3 separate regions of the Homo sapiens genome follow, and regions 1 and 3 are each linked to region 2. Evidence: fine-mapped expression QTL. A gene starts in region 2. Each other region holds a variant in brackets. All regions are shown on one strand. Distances are from middle to middle. Region 1 has its middle 21 kb from the start of CLDN4. Region 2 holds the start of METTL27 (methyltransferase like 27). Region 3 has its middle 12 kb from the start of CLDN3.

Region 1 (2,756 bases), 33 kb after region 2:
CATCATGGTGAAAAGTAAAAGTTGCCCAGTGCTCTGTATATGGCTAAGGCTGTGGGTCTATCCTTCCCAGGGTCTGGCTGGGAAGGTGATGGCTGCCTGATTCCTGGACTGGGCACGGTGCCCCCTTGGGTGTTTGCGGACGGCACAGCAAGTGTGGCCAAGGCTCTGGGAGAGGCTGAAGAGGTGGCCACCCAGGGGCAGGACTGCCAGGTCCCTGGGAAGGTCAAAAGGCAAGAGGGTAACCCACCCTTGGGGGAGCAGCTATGGCCCCAGGAGTAGGGGAGGATCCCCAGTGGAGGCAGGTGTCACTGCAGCCCTGGGCTAATGGGCTCTGGAAGGTGGGGAGGGGGGTGGGGGCGAGAAAGAAGGGGAGGAGGAGGAGAGGCGGGAGCTGTTCTGAGCCCCTGGGGTGATGTGATTGGCATTGCGGCCCCTTCCTCCTCCCCTCCCCATCACCCTCTCAGCCCCAACCACCCCACCAGGGCCTGGGAGGATGGCAGAAACCCCAGCCACATGTTCATAATGGAATAGAGAGCCAGCCAGGCCAAGACAAGCTGGCAGACCCCAGACATGCCCTGCCCCCACCCTGAGCCCCTTCCCCTCTCTTAGCCGCCTCGCCAAGCCAGGCCCTCCCACCCCAGGGAGCGAGAGGGCAGGGAAGTGACAGGACAGAAGGGTAGGGGACTTTAAGAGGGAGGGGCAGTGGAGGGAGGGGGTGCGGGGGAACTGGGAGGGGAAGGGTCTCCAGGAGAAGAGGAGCTTCAGATAGGGGAGGGGGCTCTTGGAGAGGAATGGGGCTCAGGGAAGAAAGGGGAGCTTACAGAGGGGAGTCTGGGAGTGGAGGGGGCCTGGGGCATAGTCCTGCAGGGGAAGGGGCTCCTGGTGGGCAGAGGGGCTTAAGATATAAACCAGATGTGGCCAGGCGCGGTGGCTAATGCCTGTAATCCCAGAACTTTGGGAGGCCAAGGTGGGCGGATCACTTGAGGTCAGGAGTTCGAGACCAGCCTGGCCAAAATGGTGAAAACCCATCTCTGTTAAAAATACAAAAATTAGCCAGGGCATGGTGGTGCATGCCTGTAGTCCCAGCTACTCAGGAGGCTGA[G/A]GCAGGAGAATCACTTGAACCTGGGAGGCAGAGGTTGAACTAAGCCAAGATTATGCCACTGCACCCCAACCTGGGCGACAGAGCTCGACACTGTGTCAAAAAAAAAATATATATATATATATATATATGTATGTGTGTGTGTATATATATATATATATATGTGTGTATGTGTGTATATATATATATGTATGTGTATGTGTGTGTGTATATATATATATATGTATGTGTATATATATATATGTATAAACCAGATGAGACCAGGAACAGAACAGCCCCCAAGGGTGGGCTCTGGTTTCTGGCCTTAGCTGGAGCTGGGTCCCTGCTGGGCTGGTTTCCCTCTGGGCTGGGCCCCATCTGGGCAGTGCCCTTGGCACGCTCCCAGGCAGCCCCCAGGCTTGGTTTCAGCAGGTCCGGCTGAAAACGGAAGAAACCAAGCTTGGGCAGGGCCTTTTTATGGCTCCCAGTGAAACCGGGCCCTGGGGACAGGGAAGAAGCTTCTCCAGGGCAATGGCGGAATGGTGGGGGTGACTCACTCCTCCCGTCCTGGCTCTGTGACATCTCAGAGCCTGGGAATTACCCAAAAGCAGCCAACCTGGACGGGCCGAGAGAAAACAGTTCCACCCCGCCCTGGCCACTCTCACCTCACCTTCCCACCGTCACTCACACGGAGGGACACGCCACGCCCGGAACTGAGGATACCAGGAATGAGAAACACACACCCTCTCACACAAGCACGAATCCACCTCGAAAGCCAAACACGCCCACCCCATCCCCGGACAGACAGAGGCCACACACGCGCGGCCCTCTGAGCCCCAAACCAAACTCCTCACCTCAAGAGTTCTGCTTCTCAGATGGCCAGTTTAAGAGGCTGCTTAGGGGGCCGGGTACGGTGGCTCACGCCTGTAATCCTAGCACTTTGGGAGGCCAAGGCGAGTGAATCACCTGAGGTCAGGAGTTCGAGACCAGCCTGGCCAACACAGCAAAACCCCGTCTCTACTAAAAATACAAAAATTAGCTGGGAGTGGTGGTAGGTGCCTGTAAGGCTAAGTCAGGAGAATAGCTTGAACCCGGGAGGTGGAGGTTGCAGTGAGCCGAGAAGGCACCACTGCACTCCAGCTGGGGCAACAGAGCAAGACTCTGTCTCAAAAAAAAGAGGCTGCTTAGGGGCTTCAGGGAGCTGGACAGAGAAGGTAAGGAGACTAGGGGCAACAGAGACAGGGAAATGGCAACTGGGGAGGGGCGAACGCCAGTGACCCCACTGCACAGGAAGAAAAACACAAATTGAGTTACGTGGCTTTTTGTTTTTTTGTTTTTTGCACGGGAAGAAAAACACAAATTGAGTTACGTAGTTTTTTGGTTTTTTTGTTTTTTTCTTTTTTGGAGACAGGGTCTCACTATGTTGGCCAGATTGGTTTGAACTCCTGACCTCAAGCAATCCTCCCACCTTGGCCTCCCAAAGTGCTAGGATTACAGGCGTGAGCCCCCACAGCTGGACTGTATTTTTCTTTTTTAAAAAACAGGCCGGGTGGCTCACGGCTGTAATTCCAGCATTTTGGGAGGCCGAGGCGGGTGGATCACAAGGTCAGGAGATCGAGACCATCCTGGCTAACACAGTGAAACCCCATCTCTACTAAAAATACAAAAACTGAGCCGG
Region 2 (2,756 bases):
ATCTCTGAAGATCACCCACTCCTCTCCGCAGTCATGACCTCTACCCAAGGTCATGCAACCATCACCTCCTGCCTGGACACCTGCAACAGCCTGCCAAATTCTGCCTGCCCAAACCCTTGATTCCAACACAGGTCCTCTAGACCAGCGCTTCTGAACCTTCAGCTGCCTAGAAATCGCCTGCAGAGTTTGTAGAAACACAGAAACTCTGGGCCCCAGTCCCAGAAATCTAATTCTCATTCAGAAGGTCCCAGGTCAACTGAGAATTTTTACTTTTTTTTTTTATTTGAGATGGAGTCTTGCTCTGTCACCCAGGCTGAAGTGCAGTGGCGCAGTCTCTGCTCACTGCAATCTGTGCCTCCCAAGTTCAAGCTATTCTCCCACCTCAGCCTCCTGAGTAGCTGGAATTACAGATGCCCGCCACCACGCCCGGCTAATTTTTGTATTTTTAGTAGAGATGGGGTTTTGTCCTGTTAGCCAGGCTGGTCTCAAACTCCTGTCCTCAAGTGACCCGCCCACCTCAGCCTCCCAAAGTGCTGGGATTACAGGTGTGAGCCACTGCGCCCCGGCCTAATTTTTGCATTTCTCACAAGCTTCCCTAGGGCATCTCCTAGAGGAAACCAAGATGTTACGGAGGCTGACGCTGCGTATCTTCAGGTCACACTTCCAGCCGCAAGACTCTCTCTGCTGTCCAATACAGTAGCCACTAGCCACATGTGGCTATTTAACTTATTAAAATAAAATTTGCCAGTACGGTTTTTTAAAATAAAATTATTAAAATAAAATTTGCCAGGAGGCAGAGGTGGGAGAATCGCTTGAGACTAGGAGTTTAAGACCAGCCTGGACAACATTTTTTGTCTCTACAAAAACTACGAAGATAAAAATAAATAGATAAAAATTTAAAAAGCCGGGCAAGGTGGCATGCACCTGTAGTCCCAGCTACTCAGCTACTCAGAAGGCTGAGGCAGGAGGCTGGCTTGAGCTTGAGTTCAAGGCTGCAGTGAGCTATGGTCAAGCCACTGCACTCCAGCCTGGGCGACAGAGTGAGACCCTGTCTCATAAAACAAAACAAAAATAAAACAAAATAAGTAAATATAAATACAAAGTAAAAATGAAAGCTAATCCTAGGTCCCTCTCCTGCCCATAAGAATTCAGAGACTCCCCAGTGCCTACAAACCTCATGCTTTCAGGAAGCATAAAGGACTTCAGGAGGCAGGAGGGCAGTTGGAGGGGGATGGTGGAGGTGCTGCTACCTGACGGTGGAGGGGGAGGCCGGGGCCAGACCACCGAGAAGCCCCTAAACCCGCACAGCAGGAAAACATCTCCGCAGTCCCTGCTCTACCAAGGCTGGAGGAGGGCCACAAGCCTTGAGCTCATTGGCTGGCGGGGGGGGGGGGGGCGGGCAGACTGCCAGCGCCTTCCTTTGACTGGCTATTTTCTCTCAGCGGAAAACCAATCATTGCGGGCAGGCGGTGAGGGTGTGGCCAGGGTCGCAACACAGGCCCCGCCCCGAGTCCTGTTGCCCACACGCCCGAGGCGCGCTGGATTGGCGGTGAGTTCTGACTCCGGCCTCCTTCGAGACCGTTTCGCTCCGGATGTCGCCCACCTCCGACCCTCTCTCAGTCGGAGGGCGGAAAAGAGGAAGATAGGTCCTTCCTCCAGCCGCGGGGCACCCCCTTCTCCCACCTTGCCCTTCCCCCAGCCCTGCAGCCCCAGAGTGTAAATATCCAAGCCCGCCCTCTCTGCGCTCAGTGTCCCCATCTGGGATAGGGGCCGGGATAGGGGTCGCGCTGGCAGGAGGCCTGGCAGCCTCCTCTGAAGGGGGAGGAGGGAAGGGGGAAAGGAGGGGATGGGCGATTGAGGTGGACCTCGAGACAGGGCAACGGTGTCCCCACAGGAGCATGGCCCAGGAGGAGGGTGGGAGCCTGCCCGAGGTGCGGGCGCGGGTCAGGGCCGCGCATGGCATCCCCGACCTGGCCCAAAAGCTCCATTTCTATGACCGCTGGGCTCCGGACTACGACCAGGTAAACTCATTTGGGGCCTTGCCTCCACTAGACCAGCCTCCATTTTTCTACCTGTAAAGTGGGGAATCAGCCTTGCACCCGGGGGCGGCTGTGAGGACGAAGTGAGGCCTGGCTAAGAACCCTACAGTCCTGCCCCTTCCAGAACCCGCCCCACAGCTCTGGATTGGCAGCCCCATCAGGGGCCATGACCTCCTGAGGGGGGCTGCCTGGAGGAGGTGCTATTGAGAAGTCACTGTGGGGCCGGGCGCGGTGGCTCACAAGCCGTAATCCTAAGCCCTTTGGGAGGCCGAGGCGGGCGGATCACCTGAGGTCAGGAGTTCGAGACCAGCCTGGCCAGCATGGTGCAACCCTGACTCTACTAAAAATACAAAAATTAGCCAGGCCCACGTGGTGGCAGGCGCCTGGTAATCCCAGCTACCCTGGAGGCTGATGCAGGAGAATTGCCTGAATCCGGGACACAGAGGTTGCAGTGAGCCAAGATCTCTTCACTGCACTCCAGCCCGAGTGACAGAGGGAGACTCTGTCTCAAAAAAAAAAAAAAAAAAAGTCATGTGGACTCAGCAGAGAGAGCCGCTTGGCCAGGAGAGAAGGTCCCTGGAGGGCTGAGTCTACTGTACAGTGGGCTGGGGGCTAACTCTCCAGTCCTGGCCCTTTAGCAATGGGAAGCACCTCATGCCTGGGCGTCCCCTCACGCTAGCCCCAGCCAGGCTTGATCCCCAACACACACAGCTTAGC
Region 3 (2,756 bases), 60 kb after region 2:
ATTTCAACAAATGTAAAAGAATTGAAATCATATAGAGTATATTCTGTCACACACTGGAACCAAACTAGAAACCAATAACAGAAAAAGAGGGCTGGGCGCGGTGGCTCACGCCTGTAATCCCAGCACTTTGGGAGGCCGAGGTGGGCGGATCACGAGGTCAGGAGATCAAGACCATCCTGGCTAACACGGTGTCACCCCATTTCTACTAAACAAAATACAAAAACTTAGCCGGGCGTGGTGGCAGGCCCCTGTAGTCCCAGCTACTCCAGAGGCTGAGGCAGGAGAATGAGGTGAACCCAGGAGGCGGAGCTTGCAGTGAGCCGAGATCAAGCCACTGCACTCCAGCCTGGGCGACAGAGCGAGACTCCATCCCAAAAAAAAAAAAAAGAAAAGAAAAGAAAATAACAGGAAGATCTGCAAACTCTTGTGAACCAAACCACATACTTCTAAATAATCCATAGCTCAAGAGGAAATCATAGGTTTCCTCCTGTGTATTTTCAAAAAATACACTTAAGTAAATGAAAATTAAAATACAACATATCCAAATGGTGGCACGCACATAAAGCAATGCTGATAAGGAAATTTATAGCATTAGATGCATACATCAGAAAAGAGGGAAAGTCCCAAATCAATAATCTAATCTGTCACATCAAGAACCTAGAAAAAAAGCCAGGTGTGGTGATGCATGCCTGTAGTCCCAGTCACTTGGGAGGCTGAGGCAGAAGTTCAAGGCAAAAGTTGCCTGAGCCTTTGGCCGGGCTCAGTGGCTCACACCTAAAATCCATCGCCAGCATGATGAAACCCCCGTCTCTACTAAAAATACAAAAAATTAGCTGGGCGTGGTGGCGTACGCCTGTAATCCCAGCTACTCAGGAGGCTGAGGCAGGAGAATCACTTGATCCCAGGAGGTGGAGGTTGCAGTGAGCCAAGATCACACCACTGCACTCCAGCCTGGGCAACAAGATCAAAACTGTCTCAAAAAAAAAAAAAGAAGAAGAAGAAGTTGCCTGAGCCCAGAAGTCCAAGGCTGTAATAAGCTATGATCGCACCTTTGTACTCTAGCCTGGGTGACAGAGCAAGACAAGACTCCATCTTTATAAAAAATCTAAATAAAGAATAGAAGAACCTAGAAAACAAGAGCCAAATAAATACAAAGCAAGTAGAAGGAAGGAAATATAAAGATAAGAGCAAAAACTAGTGAAATTGAAAACAGAAATTTTTTTGCATAGAAAAATATCAATGAAACAAAAAAGTAACTGAAAAAATCAGTAAAATTGACTAACTTCTAGCAAGACCAACAGAAAAAAGAAGACACAATTTATCAATAGAAATGAAACATGGGCCTGGGCATGGTGGCTCACACCTGTAATCCCAGCACTTTGGGAGGCTGAGGCGGGCAGATCATCTGAGGTTAGGAGTTCAGGACAAGCCTAACTAACATGGTGAAACCCCGTCTCTACTAAAAATACAAAAATTAGCTGGGCATAGTGGCAGGCGCCTGTAATCCCAGCTACTCGGGAGGCTGAGGCAAGAGAATCGCTTGAACCTGGAGGCGGAGGTTGCAGTGAGCCGAGATCACACCATTGCACTCCAGCCTGGG[C/T]GACAGAGCAAGACTCCGTCTCAAAAAAAAAAAAAATGAAACACAGGCTATTACGACAGATCCTACAGACACGTAAAGGATAATAAGAGGACACTATGAACAACTCTATGAATAAGGGAACGCATAAATTCAACAACTTAGTTAAAATAGCCCAGTTCCCCCAAAAAACACAAACTACAACAACCCATCTATTATGAAATAGATAATTTGAGTGGCCTTATATCTATTGAGGAAATTAAATTTGCAATTTTAAAACTCAGAAAAGAATCAACAGGCCTAATTTTCTTTGGAAAATGCTACCAAACGTTTAAAGAAGAATTAATACCATTTGATATAGTTAGGATGCTTGTCCCCACTCAAATCTCATGTTGAGATGTAATCCCCAGTGTTGGAGGTGTGGGCCTGATGGGAGGTGTATGGATCATGGAGATGGATTCCTCATCAATGGCTTGGGCCATCCTTTTGGTAATGAATGAGTTCTTGCTCTGGGTTCACATCAGATCTGGTCATTTAAAAGTGTGTGGCAGCTGGGCACAGTGGCTCATACCTGTAATTCCAGCACTTTGGGAGGCTGAGGTGGGTGGATCACTTGAGATCAGGAGTTTGAGACCAGCTTGGGCAACATGGTGAAATCCTGTCTCTACTAATAATACAAAAATTAGCTGTGCGTGGTGGTGCACACCTGTAATCCCAGCTACTTAGGAGGTGAGGCAGGAGAATCGCTTGAACCTAGGAGGCAGAGGTTGCAGTGAGCCAACATCATGCCATTGCACTCCAGCCTGGGCGACAAGAGCAAAACTCAAAAAAAAAAAAAAAAGTATGTGACATACCCCTGCACTCTCTCTCTTTTTCCTCCTTTTGCCATGTGACGTGATTGCTCCCTCTTTGACTTTGCTATGATTGAAAGCTTCCTGAGGCCTCCCCAGAAGTCGAGCAGATGTCAGCACCATGCTTCCTGTAAAGCCTGCTGAACCATGAACCAATTAAACCTCTTTTCTTATAAATTACCCAGTCTCAGGTATATCTTTATAGCAATGCAAGAAAGGCCTAATACACCATTTCTATGCAGTCTCTTCCAGAACACAGAAGAAAGGAGAACATTTCCCAGTTCATTTTATTTAGTATTACCCTGATATCAAAATTAGACAAAGACAGT

Evidence for each region. PIP is the estimated chance that this variant, and not a neighbour inherited with it, causes the effect.
Region 1: its variant is the best candidate, but not a certain one, in a credible set for the expression of METTL27 in subcutaneous fat (GTEx, PIP 0.66).
Region 3: its variant is the best candidate, but not a certain one, in a credible set for the expression of METTL27 in testis (GTEx, PIP 0.82).

The regions. Positions count from the first base shown.
Region 1 is chr7:73,808,628-73,811,383 of GRCh38, reverse strand. No RefSeq gene overlaps it. Among named protein-coding and RNA genes, the nearest start is that of CLDN4, 21 kb to the left of the region's middle. The variant G/A (reference allele first, on the strand shown) is at 1,103.
Region 2 is chr7:73,841,283-73,844,038 of GRCh38, reverse strand. METTL27 (methyltransferase like 27) reads left to right here and starts at 1,523. Exons shown (of 6, transcript NM_152559.3): 1 at 1,523-1,549; 2 at 1,895-2,021. The coding sequence starts at 1,899. RefSeq lists a silencer at 1,365-1,464 and an enhancer at 1,585-1,884.
Region 3 is chr7:73,781,343-73,784,098 of GRCh38, reverse strand. No RefSeq gene overlaps it. Among named protein-coding and RNA genes, the nearest start is that of CLDN3, 12 kb to the right of the region's middle. The variant C/T (reference allele first, on the strand shown) is at 1,601.